Linked DNA regions of Homo sapiens. The protein of the gene in region 3 purifies or fractionates together with the protein of the main gene of each other region. This does not show direct contact. Each region holds a gene or a part of one and is shown on either strand. Other genes may lie near its edges.

The links.
Region 1: the proteins of ODAD3 (region 3) and GOLGA5 purify together in Homo sapiens (affinity purification with mass spectrometry; 3 studies listed by BioGRID and IntAct, with this or other methods). This does not show direct contact.
Region 2: the proteins of ODAD3 (region 3) and RGPD5 purify together in Homo sapiens (affinity purification with mass spectrometry, with the first as the bait; 3 studies listed by BioGRID). This does not show direct contact.
Region 4: the proteins of ODAD3 (region 3) and CEP170 purify together in Homo sapiens (affinity purification with mass spectrometry; 2 studies listed by BioGRID and IntAct, with this or other methods). This does not show direct contact.
Region 5: the proteins of ODAD3 (region 3) and MTFR1 purify together in Homo sapiens (affinity purification with mass spectrometry; 2 studies listed by BioGRID and IntAct, with this or other methods). This does not show direct contact.

What each region holds. Positions count from the first base shown.
Region 1 is NC_000014.9:92,797,305-92,800,804, forward strand, and holds part of GOLGA5 (golgin subfamily A member 5), read left to right. Parts: intron 1-103; 5' UTR 104-133; coding exon 134-677; intron 678-3,500. UniProt on the Homo sapiens protein: Involved in maintaining Golgi structure. Stimulates the formation of Golgi stacks and ribbons. Involved in intra-Golgi retrograde transport.
Region 2 is NC_000002.12:109,797,295-109,800,824, reverse strand, and holds part of RGPD5 (RANBP2-like and GRIP domain-containing protein 5/6), read right to left. Parts: intron 1-3,530.
Region 3 is NC_000019.10:11,428,600-11,432,129, forward strand, and holds part of ODAD3 (outer dynein arm-docking complex subunit 3), read right to left. Parts: intron 2,422-3,530; coding exon 2,300-2,421; intron 2,178-2,299; coding exon 2,100-2,177; intron 1-2,099. UniProt on the Homo sapiens protein: Component of the outer dynein arm-docking complex (ODA-DC) that mediates outer dynein arms (ODA) binding onto the doublet microtubule. Involved in mediating assembly of both ODAs and their axonemal docking complex onto ciliary microtubules.
Region 4 is NC_000001.11:243,161,262-243,164,791, reverse strand, and holds part of CEP170 (centrosomal protein of 170 kDa), read left to right. Parts: coding exon 1-508; intron 509-3,530.
Region 5 is NC_000008.11:65,643,378-65,647,533, forward strand, and holds the start of MTFR1 (mitochondrial fission regulator 1 isoform 1 precursor), read left to right. Parts: upstream 1-1,356; 5' UTR 1,357-1,407; exon of another isoform or gene 1,408-3,118; intron 3,119-4,156. UniProt on the Homo sapiens protein: May play a role in mitochondrial aerobic respiration. May also regulate mitochondrial organization and fission.

The DNA.
Region 1 (3,500 bases), on a different chromosome or scaffold from region 3:
GTTAGGATTTCAACCCAGGATTGCCTGACTCCAGAGTCTGGTCTTAACCATTTATCATACTCTGCCACTATGCCACACTGATCATTTTATGTCCTTTTTACAGGTTTGCCAATAGGATTATCCTGCTGCCATCATGTCTTGGTTTGTTGATCTTGCTGGAAAGGCAGAAGATCTTTTAAACCGAGTTGATCAAGGGGCTGCAACAGCTCTCAGTAGGAAAGACAATGCCAGCAACATATATAGCAAAAATACTGACTATACTGAACTTCACCAGCAAAATACAGATTTGATATATCAGACTGGACCTAAATCTACGTATATTTCATCAGCAGCTGATAACATTCGAAATCAAAAAGCCACCATCTTAGCTGGCACTGCAAATGTGAAAGTAGGATCTCGGACACCAGTAGAGGCCTCTCATCCTGTTGAAAATGCATCTGTTCCTAGGCCTTCATCCCATTTTGTGCGAAGAAAAAAGTCAGAACCTGATGATGAGCTGCTGTTTGATTTTCTTAATAGTTCACAGAAGGAGCCTACCGGGAGGGTGGAAATCAGAAAGGAAAAAGGCAAGACACCTGTCTTTCAGAGCTCTCAGACATCAAGTGTCAGTTCTGTGAACCCCAGTGTAACCACCATCAAAACCATTGAAGAAAATTCTTTTGGGAGCCAAACCCACGGTAGTTAATCAGTCCTCTTATTTCTTTTAGAGTTAAGCAAATTGAATGTGTCATCATATGATCCGATGGTGTTTCTCATCTACTGTTATGGAATCTGTCTCCACTGGTGTAAGGGCAGACTCTCTGCAAATGTGTGGTGTAAACAAGGGAGACATCATTGACTACTATTAGTCAATAGACAGTTGTAGCAGGGACTTCATGTTGTCTGGAGGGCAACTTCACCCACTCAGCATCTAACAAAGTATTTCAAATTTGTTTCTCTAAGACATTTTAAGATTAAAAAAAGAAAATTTTGAAATCTGAAAGAAAACATGTCAGTTTGGATCGGGGACTATCCCAGTTGATATCTTTTTGTTACTAGGATTATAAAAATGACAGGAGGCTGTACTTCACGTATTTTCTGGGTTGTGTTTTTTGTGTGTTTTTCCCCCCACATCCTCCACAAATAAAGCTGAGAGACTGAACTTTGATCCAAGTTGAAGAGTTGAAGGCATTGACCTAGTAGTGAAGCAAGAGCTTAGAACTCTTGTTTTCAATTGTTTAATTCCCTCTGAGATTACCTCTACAAGTACACCTTCTTTCTTGTGAAATGAGATTAACGTGGTAAATGTGGCTAATTCAAGTACCTACTAACTGTTTTAAAATAGCTATAGGCTGGGCGTGGTGGCTTACACCTGTAATCCGAGCACTTTGGAACGCTGAGGCAGGCAGAGCACTCGTGCCCAGGAGTTTGAGACCAGCCTAAACAACATAGCAAAACTTTGTCTCTACAAAAAATACAAAAATTAGCCAGGCACAGTGGTGCATGCCTGTAGTCTCAGCTACTTGGGAGGCTGAGGCGGGAGAATTGATTGAGCTCAGGAGGTCGAGGTTGCAGTGAGCCGAGATTGTACCACTACACTCCAGCCTGGGCCGTAGAATGAGACGCTGTCTCCAAAGATAAAAATAGAAAAAAGGCAAAAAACTTGATAGTAGGTTCTTGCAGGGATTCTTTTGTTGTTTTGAGACAGGGTCTTGCTCTATCGCCGAGGCTTAAGTGCCGTGATGCTATCACAGCTCGCACTACCTTTGACCTCCCCAGGCTCAAGCGATCCTCCTGCCTCAGCCTCCTGAGTAGCTGGAACTATAGGTGCACACCACTGTGCCCAGCTAATTTTAAAAAATTATTTTTAATAGAAACAGTGTCTCACTGTGTTGCTCTGGCTGGTCTTGAGCTCAAGTGATCCTCCTACTTTGACCTCCCACAGCATTGGGATTATGGGCATGATCTACCGTGGCCTGGCCATAGGGATTTTTTTTTTTTTTTCTTTTTTGAGACGGAGTCTCACTCTGTCACCCAGGCTGGAGTGCAGTGGCCTGATCTTGGCTCACTGCAAGCTCCACCTCCTGGGTTCATGCCATTCTCCTGCCTCAGCCTCCCAAGTAGCTGGGACTACAGGCGCCTGCCATCACGCCTGGCTAATTTTTTTTTTTTTTTTGTATTTTTAGTAGAGACAGGGTTTCACTGTTAGCCAGGAGGCTCTTGATCTCCTGACCTTGTGATCCGCCCGCCTCGGCCTCCCAAAGTGCTGGGATTACAGGCGTGAGCCACTGTGCCTGGCCTTTTTTAATGTTTTTATTTATTTATTTATTTATTTTTTTGTGAGACGGAGTCTCGCTTTGTCGCCCAGGCTGGAGTGCAGTGACGCGATCTTAGCTCACTGCAACCTCCACCTCCTGGGTTCAAGCGATTCTCCATTTCAGCCTCCCGAGTAGCTGGGACTATAGGTGTGCACCACCACCCTTGGCTAATTTTTGTATTTTTTGGTAGAGATAGGGTTTCATCACGTTGGCCAGGCTGGTCTTGAACTCCGGACCTCAAGTCATCTGCCCACCTTGGCCTCCCAAAGTGCTGAGATTACAGGCGTGAGCCACCACACCTGGCCAGGGATTCTTTATAGAGTTGATTATTGATGGGAGATTGTCATGTTCTTGGATGTTATAGCTTCTTTCATTGTCTTGGCTGTTAGTGAATAAAATCTTTCTTGTATTTTCAAGACAAAAACTTGTATAGAAGAAGACGTTTTGGGTTGTGAAAATAGGATCAGGCAGTAGCAGTTGATTAATATGTTCACATATTCCAAAATTTCTTCTCAGCTATCTTTCAATTAATTACACAAAGAACCTACTAGGTGCAAGGATATGGAAGTGTCCAGTGGGTGAGCTAGACATGTAAACAGATAATTTACTTGTGGTCTAGTAAATGTAGCAATTAAGTATGGTCAGAGTGTTGTGGAAGTATGAAGGAGGAAGTAACTAATTGCCTAGGGTATTCAGAAAGGATTCACAGAGGGTCTGTATTTTTAGCTGGGTCTTAAAGAATGAACAGGAGTTTGCCAGGTAAAAAGTTAGAGACAGCATTCCATGCAGAGAGAACAGACTCTAAGAGGCTAGTAGAGTAGAAAACATTGTAACAAAGTTGGAAACACTGAGTGAGTTGGAGGGTGATGAAGAAAATGTAGCTAGCAAACAAAGTTGGGACCTGTTTGTGAAGGCCCTTGTGTCATACTGTTTATGCAATTAAACCCATTACTTCTATAATCATTGTTAAAGATTGATTCCTGAACAACAGGCTTTAGAATCGCTTGTGTGTTGTTAATTTAAAAATGAATTATTGAGTGCCTTCCCAGGCTTCCTGAATCGTTATTTTCTGGGGATGGAGCCAGGGCATCTGATTTTGTTGTTGTTGTTCTGTGGGTGGTTCTTAGCCAATAAAAGTTGAAAGTGGCTGCCATAGCCAGTGTGATGCTAGTAGAGATCTTTAAGTCAAGAGTTGACATAGCT
Region 2 (3,530 bases), on a different chromosome or scaffold from region 3:
TAAGCCTCTATGGGAAAGAATAAGTAAGTACTTAGGATCTATTAAGGCACTGAGGATTCCCGGGTCCATGTACTGTTCTCTCTACAGATCAGATCAGTATTTTACAGTCAAGGAGTCAAAAAGGCAGAAATAAATATTGAATTCTTCAAGTAATAAACGAGGTCCACAGCCTGGATCCTTGGTTACATAAACTCCAAAGTCCAAAATGCTGATGCACACCAGGCTGGGTGCGGTGGCTCACATCTGTAATCCCAGCACTTTCGGAGACTGAGGCGGGTGGATCACTTGAAGCCAAGAGTTCGAGACCAGCCTGGCCAACATACAGAAACCTCCTTTCTACTAAAAATACAAAAATTAGCTGGGCATGGTGGCACACGCCTGTAATCCCCGCTGCTTGGGAGGCTGAGGCAAAGAATCGCTTGAACCCGGGAGGCAGAGGCTGCAGTGGGCCAAGATCGCACCACTGCACTCCAACCTGGGCAACAGAATGATTCCATCTCAAAAAAAAAAAAAAATGCTGATACAACCAGAGTATGTTCCATCCATGTGATAGAGTATACAGCTACTCAAACATCTTATTTTTGAAATTCCAAGACCCCAGTGAATGTCCAAAAACGATGAATAGTACCAAACCAGGTTGCCATCAATCGAAACATGCTTCCTGTTTGTGTCCTCCACCCACAAATTTAATGTCTTGTCCATCTCAACTAAGCACTTATCACACACTGTGGCTGTAACTTTTGCAGTTTGGGGTGTCACAACAAAACTAGCACAAATTTCTTTTTCCTTCTTCACAATTTCATGGACAAAAGATTTGTTCTTACCATAGATCTCAGCAACCCCAGTATATGATCTTTTTTCTTTCCTAAGTCAAAAACTCACCTCTTCACTTAAAGGAAGCACTATATGGCTTCTCTCTGGCATATGTGAACTGCCAGCATCACTATTCTTGCTCTTTGGTGCCATTTTAAATAAAATAAAGGTTACTTGAACACAAGCACTGCAATACTCCAACAACTGATCTGATAACTGAGATGGCTAGTATGTAACTAGCGGGTGGGGAGCACATACAGCATGAATATGTTGGACAAAGGGATGATTCGTGTCCTGGGTAGGACGGAGCAGGAGGCCGTGAGATTTTTATCATGTTATTCAGACCTGTTTGCAATTTAAAACTCATGAAATGTTTATTTATATAATCTTCCATTCAATATTTTTGGACCACGGGTGACGCAGGTAAGTAAAACCACGTAAGGCAATACTGTGGATAAGAAGGGACTACTGTACCAGCAACGAACAATCAGAAAATGAAATTAAGAAAGCAATTCCATTTACAATCGCATCTAAAAGAAAAAAATGCCTGGGAATAAATGTAAACAAGGAGGTGAGAGACTTGTATGCTTAAATTACAAAACCTTGCTCAATGCCAGGCTAACACCTGCAATCCCAGCACTGGCGACAGAGCAAGACTCCGTCTCAAAAAAAAAAAAGAACTATAGCAATCTTAACAAAAATAATACACAACAGTCAGGACAGCACATAAAGGAACAAGGCCTGTTCCCCCCTTCCTTTTTTTTTTTTTTTTTTGAGATGGAGTCTTGCTCTGTCGCCAGGCTGGAGTGCGGTGGCTCGATCTCAGCTCACTGCAACCTCTGCGTCCCGGGTACAAGCTGGGACTACAGGCGCATGCCACCATGCCCAGCTAATTTTTGTATTTTCAGTAGAGATGGGGTTTCACCATGTTGGCCAAGATGGTGTCGATCTCTCGACCTTGTGATCTGACTTCTTCCGCCTCCCAAAGTGCTGGGATTACAGGCATCAGCCACCGAGCCCGCCAGTTCCCCCTTTTCAAAATGAAGAAATAGATTCAAGGTACAATGCCAAAACATAATAGAAAAATAATTCCATTACCTTCTTTGCTTCCAACTATGTTAAAACATAATAGAAAAATAATTCCATTACCTTCTTTGCTTCCAACTATGTTATTAAAGTAGACAATCTTAAGATAATTAAACAACTTTACAAATTATTCTTCTATATGATCTTTTGCCTCTAACCTGCTCACTTTACAAGGGAACTGAAGCTCAAGCAGGCAAATGCCTTGTTTAAAGATATACAGCTAGAAAGGAGCACAGCCCATGTTATGTAAACAGGACAATATCTGATGCAAGCAGTACTTCTTTACATGACAGCAGATGTCACTATAAGCAAATACCTGAATTCACTTAAGCTGTCAAATATCAAGAACTGATGCAGGGCTGAAAACAGGAACAGTAAGACCCTAAGAGATGCCACATCATCGCTATCTTGCACAGTAAGATAGAGATGTAATTGTAATTGTCCAAAACTTAATATTTGTGGCCTACTTTTTCATTATGCAGTTCTAAATTTCTCTCTCTTTTTTTTTTAATTCAAACGGAGTCTCACCCTGTCGCCCATCTTGCACAATCAAATGAATCTCCCTCCCCCTAAAATCCTCCAAAAAAGCTGCTGTTCTCAACAAACCCATCTGATCAGCTCCAAATCTGTGGAGTCCCAACAAGGGTGAAGGCCGTGATTATACAGGACAATGAGGAAAAGTCTAGATACTGAACCATGAGTTCCCCAATCTTCTTCCCCTGGAACATAAGGGTAAGGAAATCTCTCAAAAGGCAGAACAAACAAAAGAGGAGAATAAGAGAAAAATTAGAGAAACTCCAGCTTTCAGGTAAACATCATTAAAAAAAAGGGTAAGAAATGGTTAAAGAAATAATACAAGAAATGCTACAGAACTGAAAGAAATGAGTTTCCCAATTGAAAGGACACTTCCAGAAAACCTTTAAGTTACCAAGAACAAGAATCTCATGGGACTCCTAACAACAGAACTTCTAGAAAATGAAGCAATGCTTTCAAAATTGCGAAAAAAATTATTTGAAACTCAGAATTCGATAACCAAATGATCAACTAAATTAAGTAAAGATGTTTTAAAGACATACCATTAGTTTCTAGACCAGCCTGACCAGTATGGTGAAATCCCATCTCTACTAAAAATAGAAAAAATTAGCCGGGCATGCTGGCGCACACCTGTAATCCCGCTACTCGGGAGGCTGAGGCAGGAGAATCACTTGAACCTGGGAGGCGGAGGTTGCGGTGAGCTGAGACCATGCCACTGCACTCCAGCCTGGGCAACAGAGCAAGACTCTGTCCCATAACAAAAACAAACAAAAAAACCTCTCATCCACTTTTCCTCAAAGCAAGTGAGACTATGCTACACCAAAACAAAGAAAGTAAATGAAGAGGACATGAGATACAAGAAACAAAGGGTCTAACTCAGAAAAAAGATGAAGGGAATTCTCAAACTGGTGATAAAGGGAAGTCCCAAGAGCACAGCTGTGTAGCAAAGAGGAAGAAAAACCAATCCGGGTTGGAGAAGTTGGTTAGTAAGGGTATTCCAGGTAGACAGACAATCAATCAATCAATCAGTGTTTTAAGCTGAAATTGATGGGATTATCTGACCAGTTTGACCACATTTGAGGGTTTAAATTGCTGAG
Region 3 (3,530 bases):
GTGCAGTGGCACGAACATGACTCACTGCAGCCTCGACCTCCCCAGTTCAGGTGATCCTCCCACCTCAGCCTGGCAAGTAGCTGGGACTACAATCCTGTGCCACCACATTTGGCAAATCTTCTGTATTTGTTGTAGAGTCAAAGTTTCACTATGTTGGCAGGCTGGTCTCAAACTCTTGGGCTCAAGTGATCCTCCAGCCTTGGCCTCCCAAAGTGCTGGTATTACAAGGCATGAGCCACCATGCCTAGACTGTGTTTTATTTTTTATTTATTTATTTATTTATTTATTTATTTATTTATTTATTTTGAGACAGAGTTGCCCAGGCTGGAGTGCAATGGCATGATCTCGGCTCACAGCAACCTCCACCTCCCGGGTTCAAGGGATTCTCCTGCGTCAGCCTCCTGAGTAGCTGGGATTACAAGCATGCACCACCATGCCCGGCTAATTTTTTGTATTTTTAGTAGAGACGGGGTTTCGCCATGTTGGCCAGGCTGGTCTCAAACGCCCGACCTCAGGTGATCCGCCCGCCTCAGCCTCCCAAAGTGCTGGGATTACAGGCGTGAGCCACCGCGCCCGGCCTTTAATTTTTTATCTTTTGTTTTTGTTTGTTTGTTTGTTTTTGTTTTTTTGAGACAGAGTCTCGCTCTGTCACCCAGGTTGGAGTGCAGTGGCACCAGTCTCAGCTCACTGCAAGCTCCGCCTCCCGGGTTCAAACTGTTCTCCTGCCTCAGACTCCTGAGTAGCTGGGACTACAGGCGCCCACCACCATGCCTGGCTAATTTTTTGTATTTTTATTTTTATTTTATTTTTTATTTATGTATTTATTTTTGAGACAGAGTCTCACTCTGTCGCCCAGACTGGAGTGCAGTGGTGCGATCTCAGCTCACTGCAACTTCTGCCTCTTGGGTTCAAGCAATTCTGTGCCTCAGCCTCCTGAGTAGCTGGGATTACAGGTGCCTGCCACCACACCTGGCTAATTTTTGTATTTTTAGTAAAAACAGGGTTTCACCATCTTGGCCAGGCTGGTCTAGAACTCCTGACCTTGTGATCCACCCACCTCGGCCTCCCAAAGTGCTGGGATTACAGGCATGAGCCACCGCGCCCGGCCTTTTGTATTTTTAGTAGAGACGGGGTTTCACCGTGTTAGCCAGGATGGGCTCGATCTCCTGACCTCGTGATCCACCCGCCTCGGTTTCCCAAAGTGCTGGGATTACGGGCGTGAGCCACCGCGCCCAGCCTTTTTTTTTTTTTTTTTTAAAGAAACAGGTTGTACTGTCACTCAGGCTGGAGTGCAGTGGTGCAATTGTGGCTCATTATAGTCTCAAACTTCTAGGCTCATGCAATCCTCCAGCCTCAGCCTCCTGAATAGCTGGGATTACAGGCATGTGCCACTGGTCATTGTTTTCGTTTGTTTGTTTTGAGACTGAGTCTCACTCTGTCTCCCAGGCTGGAGCACAGTGGCACAACCTCAGCTTACTACAACCTCTGCCTCTTGGGTTCAATGACTTTTAAAATGTTTTATTTTTTTTAATTATTTTTATTTTATTTATTTTTTGAGACGGAGTTTCGCTCTTGTTGCCCAGGCTGGAGTGTAATGGCACAATCTCGGCTCACTGCAACCTCTGCCTCCCGGGTTCAAGCGATTCTCCTGCCTCAGCCTCCCGAGTAGCTGGGATTACAGGCACGTGCCATCATGCCCAGCTAAGTTTTGTATTTTTAGTAGAGACAGGGTTTCTCCATGTTGGTCAGGTTGGTCTTGAACTCCCGACTTCAGGTCATCTGCCCGCCTTGGCCTCCCAAAGTGCTGTGATTACAGACGTGGGCCACCGCGCCTGGCTGTGATGTTTTTTTTTTTAACTTGTTTTCCCTATTAGGATATGAGCTGTTTTTAGAAGTGGAGACTTGGTCTGCTTTTTCACTGCATTTACTACCATGCCAGGATGCCAGATACAAGGAAAGTGAGTAATAAAGATTTAATTGAATGAGCACATGAATGGCAGCTAGTGTGCAGGAAGGATTGGAGAGGGTGAGCCTGGAGTCCAGTGGTGAGGGGACCCAGGCTGGAAATGAAGGAGGAGGTGGGGCGAGGGTGGGCAAACCTGTCCTGTCCTGTTCTTCAGGTATGGCTTCTCCCACTTCCATTCGCGAATCACTGCCTGGACCACTTTCTCATCTCCCTGCAAGGAGGGAAGTCCAGTCACCTTTCAGCATGCCACCTCCAGCTAAGGCCAGGTGCTACCTACTTGTCCCCCACCATCCACCGCCACGGGAACCCTACACCCACCCCTTTGCCCCTTACCTTGAGCAGGTCCAGCAGCTTTAGTTCCAGTGCCTTAGTCTCCTTGCGGAGCTGACTGATGGTCTCCTGGTTCTTCTTGATGTTCCACTGAGAGCTCTCAAAAAAAGCCTTCCGGTCACCCTCTGGCAGGCAGGTGAGGTGGACAGACACACAGTTACTGGGTGGGTGCATGGGTGCAACATCCCAGAGGAAAGACCTTTTTTGCAATCATCAACTTTTTTTTTTTTTTTGAGATGGAGTTTCACTCTTGTTGCCCAGGCTGCAGTGCAATGGTGCAATCTCGGCTCACCACAGCCTCCGCCTCCCGGGTTCAAGAGATTCTCCTGCTTCAGCCTCCCAAGTAGCTGGGATTACAGGCATGTACCACCACACCTGGCTAATTTTGTATTTTTAGTAGACATGGGGTTTCTCCATGTTGGTCAGGCTGGTCTCGAACTCCTGACCTCAGGTGTTCCCAAAGTTCTAGGCCCCCTAAAGTCCTAGGATTATAGGTGTGAGCCACTGTGCCAGGCTCATCAACTTAATATTATAAGAATGCAGTCGTTGACCAGCCTGGCCAACATGGTAAAACCGCATCTCTACTAAAAATACAAAAATTAGCCAGGTGTGAGGCTGAGCATGATGGCTCGTTCCTGTAATCCTTGCACTTTGGGAGGTAGAGGCGGGCGGATCACCTGAGGTCAAGAGTTCAAGATCAGCCTGGCCAACATGGTGAAACCCCATCTCTACAAAAATACAAAAATTAGCTGGGCATGGCCGGGCACGGTGGCTCACGTCCATAATCCCAGCACTTTGGGAGGCCAAAGTGAGCGGATCACGAGGTCAGGAGATCGAGACCATCCTGGCTAACATAGTGAAATCCCGCCTCTACTAAAAATACAAAAAAAAAAAAAAATTAGCCGTGCATGGTGGCAGGCACCTGTAGTCCCAGCTACTCAGGGGACTGAGGCAGGAGAATGGTGTGAACCTGGGAGGCAGAGCTTGCAGTGAGCCGAGATCGCACCACTGCACTCCAGCCTGGGTGACAGAGCGAGACTCTGCCTCAAAAAAAAAAAAAAAAAAAAATTAGCCGGGCATGATGGTGGGTGCCTGTAATCCCAGCTACAGGAGGCTGAGGCACAATAATTACTTGACCTCTGGAGGTGGAGGTTGCATTGAGCTGAGATCCTGCCACTGCACTCCAGCCTGGGCAACAGAGCAAGACTCTGTCTCAAAAAACAAAACAAAACAA
Region 4 (3,530 bases), on a different chromosome or scaffold from region 3:
CTTACCTCAGCTGATGAGCATGTACATTCCAAACTGGAAGGAAGTAAAGTAACGAAATCTAAGACTTCTCCGGTGGTATCTGGTTCATCTAGTAAATCAACCACCCTTCCAAGGCCACGACCTACCAGGACTTCCCTCTTGCGCAGAGCACGACTTGGTGAAGCTTCAGACAGTGAACTTGCTGATGCTGACAAAGCATCTGTTGCTTCTGAAGTATCCACAACAAGTTCTACATCAAAACCTCCCACAGGAAGGCGTAACATCTCTCGGATTGATTTATTGGCTCAGCCTCGTAGAACACGACTTGGCTCACTGTCAGCTCGTAGTGACTCTGAAGCAACAATTTCTAGAAGTAGTGCCTCTTCGAGGACCGCAGAAGCCATCATTAGAAGTGGAGCCAGACTAGTACCATCAGATAAATTTTCTCCTAGAATTAGAGCTAACAGTATCTCTCGACTCTCAGACTCCAAGGTCAAAAGTATGACCTCAGCTCATGGCTCTGCTTCAGGTAAATTGGATCCAGATTTCTAATAGCATTAGCATGTTGTATATTTGGGGGCTCCTTTTTTTTTTTAAAAAAAAAAGTAAGGTTCTAGTTGTCTTCCCAAGATACTCATTCAAAACAAAAGTTATGATATACGGGGCAGCGGCGGTGGGGGGTCTATAAAACAGTTTTATTTAGCATAGTAAATGGAAAATCAGAAGTTATACATACTTCCAATTAGAGTCCTGGCGCAAAATAGTGATTTCAAAACTAGGAATTCATTGAGCTGATTTAGGAGTTTTAATTTTCCAGTTGGTGCTATATTTGGATGTGTGTGTCAAAATTAAATTATCTGGAAGTATCTGGTTTAAAGTATAGGAATTAACATTGTGCTTCTAAAAGCATGTGTTTAACCTTTAAATATCCTCACATAATTCAAAGCCCTTAAGAACTTGAAGAAAAGCAGTATATGCTTTATTACTCCTTTCAGAGTTAAATGAAATAATCAATGTTTTCTTTTTTTTCCCTACCCATTTTGAAATGTCTCACATACTTTACCTATACTTTTTAAAGTTAAATCTGTTTATAGTTGGAGCAGGTGAAAACTAACCTTAATTTATTTCAGTGGAAGAAGATGGATTCATGGGGAATCACTCAGCGTATATTGGCCAAACTGGGCTGTAGAAATTTAACTGGTTATGAGCATTATCTCACAAAGTGCTGTTATATCATTTAACTCTAGTAATTAGGTGTAATTGAATATAATAACTACAAAAACTACTTACTTTCCACCAGAATTTAACTGATGCTGTTATATTTGTTTGCTTATGTGCTTTGTATTCAGAGCTGAGGCCATTGAGATACATGTGTGACCAAAGAGTAATGAGGTGGATATTTGTTTGTGTCCTATATGCATGTTCTCATTACTTCATAATGAGCCTCATATGTGGACGTGGCTGCAAAGGCCAGTGTGGGAGGCCAGCTGTTACAACGGACATGAAGATGTGTGATTATTTTCAGTAGGCAGACATCTAAGTAAGCCCTAAGTCTTGAGTTAAGAGTGGAGGGGAAGTTGATATGAAATTTCATCTTTTTATTTTTGATTGGTTTACATCTACCACACCATCTCCTACAAGACCCTAAAGGAACAGTACTTTGCATATGATACTTTTTTCACTTTTCTTCCTCTTTTCACTGCTGCTTTCCTCCACTCCATTCACCTGTATCTCTTTGCTGGTCAGTGGGTTTGGTAATGATGGTCACTGTCTATGGTAGAAATGGACGTAGGGTGAAGCCAGATAGCATATAATCATGATTCCAAAAAAAATAGACAACATTTTCCTTATTACCCCAGTCCTCATTTCCACACTTGAAGCTTTGGTTGGTGGTTCACAAATTTATTGCCAAATATTTTAAAACTAACTACTACATTTTGGTTTATTTTCATTCTGTTTTTGGTTATGGCTCTACTTCAATTCACATTTCATCTGTGCTGCATTTCCTGATGAAATTTCTTCTGCTGTACTCCTTGTTTTATCACCTCATCTCCATTAAGATATGTATGTATTTTCCTGTCTTAACATAATTTCTATGTTACCAGATAGCTTGGAGTACCTCTTAACACATGATGTGGTTTTATTCCTCGATATTTAGGATAAGGCTTGAGATGCAAGCTAAATATGATTACTTCAGCAAGTCTAAGAAACAACTGTAAGATGCTATATATAAAGACAGATTTCATTTTCTGCTTCTTTGAATACAGAACTTGATAAATACTCAGTTTTCTGTGTCCAAAAATAACCTTGAATTGTGTATGAAATTCCCTAGGACACATTGATGTATATGATTTTAGTCTTTTCATACTTACTAGCAGTATATTAAATAATTAGAATCATGGAATTTAAAAGTTAGAAGGGTTATTCTCTTAAGGGAACCAAGGCCAAGAGAGGAAATAACCTGCCCTGGGCACATGGCAGTGGCAGGGGCAGAATAAGAATCAAAGACTTTTAATCCCCAGCCTGTTTTTCTACCGTATCTATTCTAGCTCTAAGAAATAGTTTCAGTGTTTACTTGTATGCAAGCTTCCAGAAGACAGCTAGAATCTACTGGATTATTATCAGGAGTATATGCAAGGTCAATATACAATATAAAGGTTTTGGTATTGTTTACTAAAATCTTTGCAGTTCTGATGTTTTACCCAGTTTATATTCTCTATTCCACCTTATGAGTGTAAAGCCATATTGTAATCTAGGATTGTATATTCAGATTCTCTCAAGATACCCACTTATAGTATTAGACCTTATCTAGGACAGTGGCCAGGATCTTTCCTTCAGTGAGAACATACTATAATAGCTGTATGGAAAAGGTGGTCAAACAAACAAACCTACCTGTTTGATTTTGCTAATTTGGTGCCTTTGATATTATAACATTTCTTTTTAAGATAATTATAATATTTTGAATGGAAAAAGAAAAGCAAAATTTTAACTTTTGAAACATGATTTAAAAGAATGTTAAATCATGCCGATCAGTGTTGCTGTGCACAGTATAAACTTTAAAGACCTTGGAAATAATCTGAACCTAGCACTTGTGATATTGTCCCAATTGGATATGTAAAAATAATTCCATAATGTTTCCAATTCCATATTTTAGATGATGTCTCTAAAATATTTTTAGGCCAGCACAGTGTTTCATGCCTGTAATCCCAGTATTTTAGGGGAGGCCAAAGTTAGAGGATTACTTGAGCCCAGGAGTTCAAGGCTGCAGTGAGCTGTGATCACACTACTGCATTCCAGCCTTGGACAAGTGAGACCCTGTCTCCATTAAAAAAAAGTTTTTTTTAAAGAAATGTATGTGATAAAAATAGAAGATTGGAAATCTCAGATTTAGCAATATGAAGAGAAGAGTTCTGTATGTTTCTCTGATGTAATTTGCAATTTGCTTCTAGGAGTTTAACTAGTTTTTTTTTCCCCAAAACATTCTTTCAGTGCTTCTTTTTTTTTTTTTTGAGACGGACTCTTGCTCTTGTTGCCCAGGCTGGAGTGTAATG
Region 5 (4,156 bases), on a different chromosome or scaffold from region 3:
GGTGCTTTAAGACATTTTCCTTTTAATAAATAAGTAGGAAACAACATATAATCTCGTAAACTCGATGCTAAAGTTCCTCTATGGACTTTGGAAAGGCTGGCGAAAGCCAGCGTGCCTGAAACACAAGCTTCATTAGCTTAGCAGTAAATACCCTCCGGAAAGATCTCAGAGGAAGAAATTAGTGCCCTTTGACAGAATCGCCACCGTCCATTGCTCCCACCCTTTCGGCTCCAAAGCTCCTGCTCTTTCATTCAGCCTCAGACAAGCACTCACTTCTCAGGAAGTATTCCCTGAGACATTATGGAGGCGCCCAGGCTCCCACCTCGATTCCATTATAATATTTGATTAAGTTTGTGTTTTTGTTTAGTTTGTGTTATCTCCTCGTTATCTTGTAGGCTCACTTAGGGCGTGGCTCAAGGCTTTTAACAACCTTTCTGCTGTCATAGTTGTCCCCCAACAAGCCGTTGTTGAGTAAATGAGTTAATGCTCTGGGTGAAGGAGGAAAGCCCTCACTAGGAAGAGACTTGTGCCACCCGGGGCAAGAACATCAGAGATCCAGTGACAGCCCAGCGACCTCCGGGATCAATTGCAATGGGAGGGTAAGAGAGACAGCCAATCAGCAACAGCCTCTTCAAAAGCCATACAAAAATACGGACAGGTTTCCTACCCTACATAGGAATCTTTCATCACGCCTACGCACATTACTACACTGCATAAGTTAGCTAGAAATGTAATAATCATATTTTCACGACAATTATTTGAAATCCAGAGTGTCCTAGAGTATTCAAATCTTTAGAAAGCACGTGCCCCAAATGAATCGGACTGAACAGACGCTGGAACCGAACATGGTAAAGTAAAATACTTATCCATGAGGCACTTTGTAATCCCCGCACTCCTGCTCTGCCTAAAGAGAAACATCTCGGATGTGAGGTCCGCATAGGCATTAGATCTGCCGGGTGGACACAGGTCCCTACAGCGTGGGGTGAAATGGGCTCCACATGTTAGGTTAACAAAAGCTTACGACTCGCAGCCTTTTTCAAGGTAATACACATCTGCGGCTACATTCAGAATGTGGGTGTCCCTAAACCCCTAAAGCATGAAGCTGACAAAAGCACTTCCCAGGACAGGACGGTGAAGGCACAAAGCAAGGTCCGCACAAAAGCACACGCCCCTCTCAGAGCTCCGCGCGTGCGCACACCGACTGTGACTCTCAGCAGCCGGCTTGCGGAGCGGTTGCCGCGTCCTCTGCCGAGCTTCTTGTGCCCGCCTCCGAGCCTGAGGAAACAGCTGATTGATCAGCCTGGCTCAGGCTTGGGGCGGGGATTGGCTGATTGGCAGCAACGCCACGGGACAGCCAAGCTAGAAGCCTGAGGAGCCGGAGAGGGTGCTGGCTGCCGCGCGGCCGAGGTGAGTAGGGTGGGAACTCGGAAAAGCGGTTGGCTAGCGGGTGATGAAGTCGGCTGCAGGCCTGACGGCGATGGGATGCCCTGGAAACAGTCAGAACAGGAGCTGAAGGAGCTCGGTTCGGGAACGCAGGGAGGCCGGCGGGATCCTGGGCCGGTTGAGTGTTTGCCCCGCGGCCGGGAGGCAGAGACTGCCTCGGCTGAGGGCGCGTGGGTCGGGGGCTCCGGAGGAGCTGAGGGAAGTCGGCTGACTTGCCCTGAAGGCTGAGACTCGCCCACCCGCCAATCTACCCCTACACCTCCTGCCCCCTCCCCCGACCTTCGGTCCATCTTTCGGACCCCCGGTTCCCGCGCCGGCCGCCAGGCGGCGGTCCTGGGGAGACCGCCCTTCGCGGCGGCTCCCTTGGGTGCTGCGCCCTTAACGGGCTCAGGAGCCGGACTGCGCGGGTGCACCGCCAGCCGGCCTCCGGGAGGAGCAGTGCGCTGGCTGATCCGCCGGGAAGTTTAACCAGCTTCCTGTGGTTGCTGTGTCGCTTTTCGCCTCCTAGAACTTCCCAGTGTATCTTCTGACCATGACCAGGGTTTGCAGGAAACCCCAAAGCCGGCCTTTGGGCATTAACAACAGCAGCATTTTATTATGGAAATCTTCAAACTGTGGAGAAATTGAACGAAGGATATAAGGAATTCACTGTACTCATTACCCAGTTTCAGTAATTATCAATACGTGGGCAGTCTTGCTCCCCTAATCCGGGTTATTTTGCGTTTTTGAGACAGGGTCTCTGTCACCCAGGCTGGAGTGCAGTGGCGGGATCTCTACCCACTGCAGCCTCCACCTCCTGGGCCCCAGCGATCCTCACGCCTCAGCCTCCCCACTAGCTGGGACTACAGGCAGGCGCCATCACGCCCGGCTTTCCCCCCCCCCCCCCTTTGTAGAGATGGGGTCTCCTTATGTTGCTCAGGCTATCTTTGAACTCCTTGGCTTAAGCGATCCTCCCTCCTTGGCCTCCCAAAGTGTTGGGATTACAGGCGGGAGTCATCGCACCCGGCTATCCTGGGTTATTTTGAAGCAAATCCCAGACATTATATAATTTCAATTATTTTACATATTTCTATGCCTCTGTCATGATGAATAATCATACATATAATAATTTGCTTTCTAGAGGGGTCAAGTAAAATAAGGGACATATTAAAGTGTAGACAGTGCTCATTTAGTTTGTACTACCAGAATTTAGGTAACTGCTACAGTGCAGTTTCATTATCTTGTGCTCAGGTTTTCAAAATCAGAGTTACCAGATAATCTAGACAGTAGTGCTCTTGCTTTTGAATAGTAATAATTGTATTGATAATTTCTATTTGTCGAGTTCTTAGTATGTATGAAGGACTGTGAAGTTGTTTCCACCTACTCATTTAATTTTTGCAATAACCCTATGAAGTAGGTATTATTATCCCCATGTTAGAGTTAGGAGAAAGAAATTTGGAGAGGTCACAATTTACCTGAAGTCACACTGCTGAAAGGATGGGGGTGGGGGTAGAATTCAGAATGCTACTCTTGGCCTTTGTCATTGCAAAGTTCTTGCTCTTTTAACTGTAACAATGTCCTAGGAGTTGTGGAATAAATGGAACTGCTGTGGAAAATTATTTCTGTTAAGCCACAAATCAGTAATGGAAAAAAAAAAGCCTGAAAATTTACACAAATACAAACAATAGTGAGAGAGGTATGTTTGTTCTTTGAAAAGTTAAAGATTATTACAACTAAATTTGATGTCCTGAGAAAACATAGCTCAACAAATACAAGTGCTAAAAATTTTATTCTTGGCCAGATGCATGGCTCAGCCGAGCACTTTGCAAAGGCCGAGGCAAGAGGACCCCTTGAGACCAGCCTGGGCAATATAGTGTGACACTGTATTTAAAAAATAAAAGTAAAATAAACATTTTATTCTTTAATATGTAACCAGTTAGAGAGAAAAGGAAAATATACATCAATGAATAGCCTCTACCACTCCTTTAGCACATAGCATATATTGGATATTAATACTAAATATTTCATCTATATCCTTCATCCTCCCAATCTTAAACTACTAAGACAACATCTTCATCCAAATAGTGTTAGATGAATAAGGAATGAGATAGAAACAGCTGGGCCTCCTCTACTTATTCAAAGGACAGTAGAGAAGGACTATTAGCTTGGAGTTTAGGAATCCTACTGGATAGGAGTAATTCAGAAGTCCAGAAGTCAGGTCAGAATCCTTTGTGAAGGAACTTGAGTGCCACTTAAAGAGTTTAAACTTAATGAGCAAAGAAGTGACATGATCAAAGTTATCTTACAGGAAGATAGATACAGGAAGATAGCTGGTACTGTCAAAGGTGGCTTTACCAGTCATGTGAAAGGATTAGCAGTTGGTTGACCTGATAAATATAAAGGAAATAGACGTGGGGAACTGGCAAATTTATGGATATGAGGAAAGGACCAGACAGAGAATACAGCCTGAAACAGAGAAAAGAGAATGGTATATAGTAGGATTTTTTTTGTTTTTGTTTCTGTTTTTTTTGAGATGGAGTTTTACTCTTGTTGCCCAGGATGCAGTGCAGTGGTGTGATCTCTGCTCACTGCAACCTCTGCCTCCTGGGTTCAAGCGATTCTCCTGCCTCAGCCTCCCATGTAGCTGGATTACAGGCGTAGGCCACCACGCCCAGCTAATTTGTATTTTTAGTAGAGACAGAGTTTCACCATGTTGGCCAGGCTGGTCTTGAAC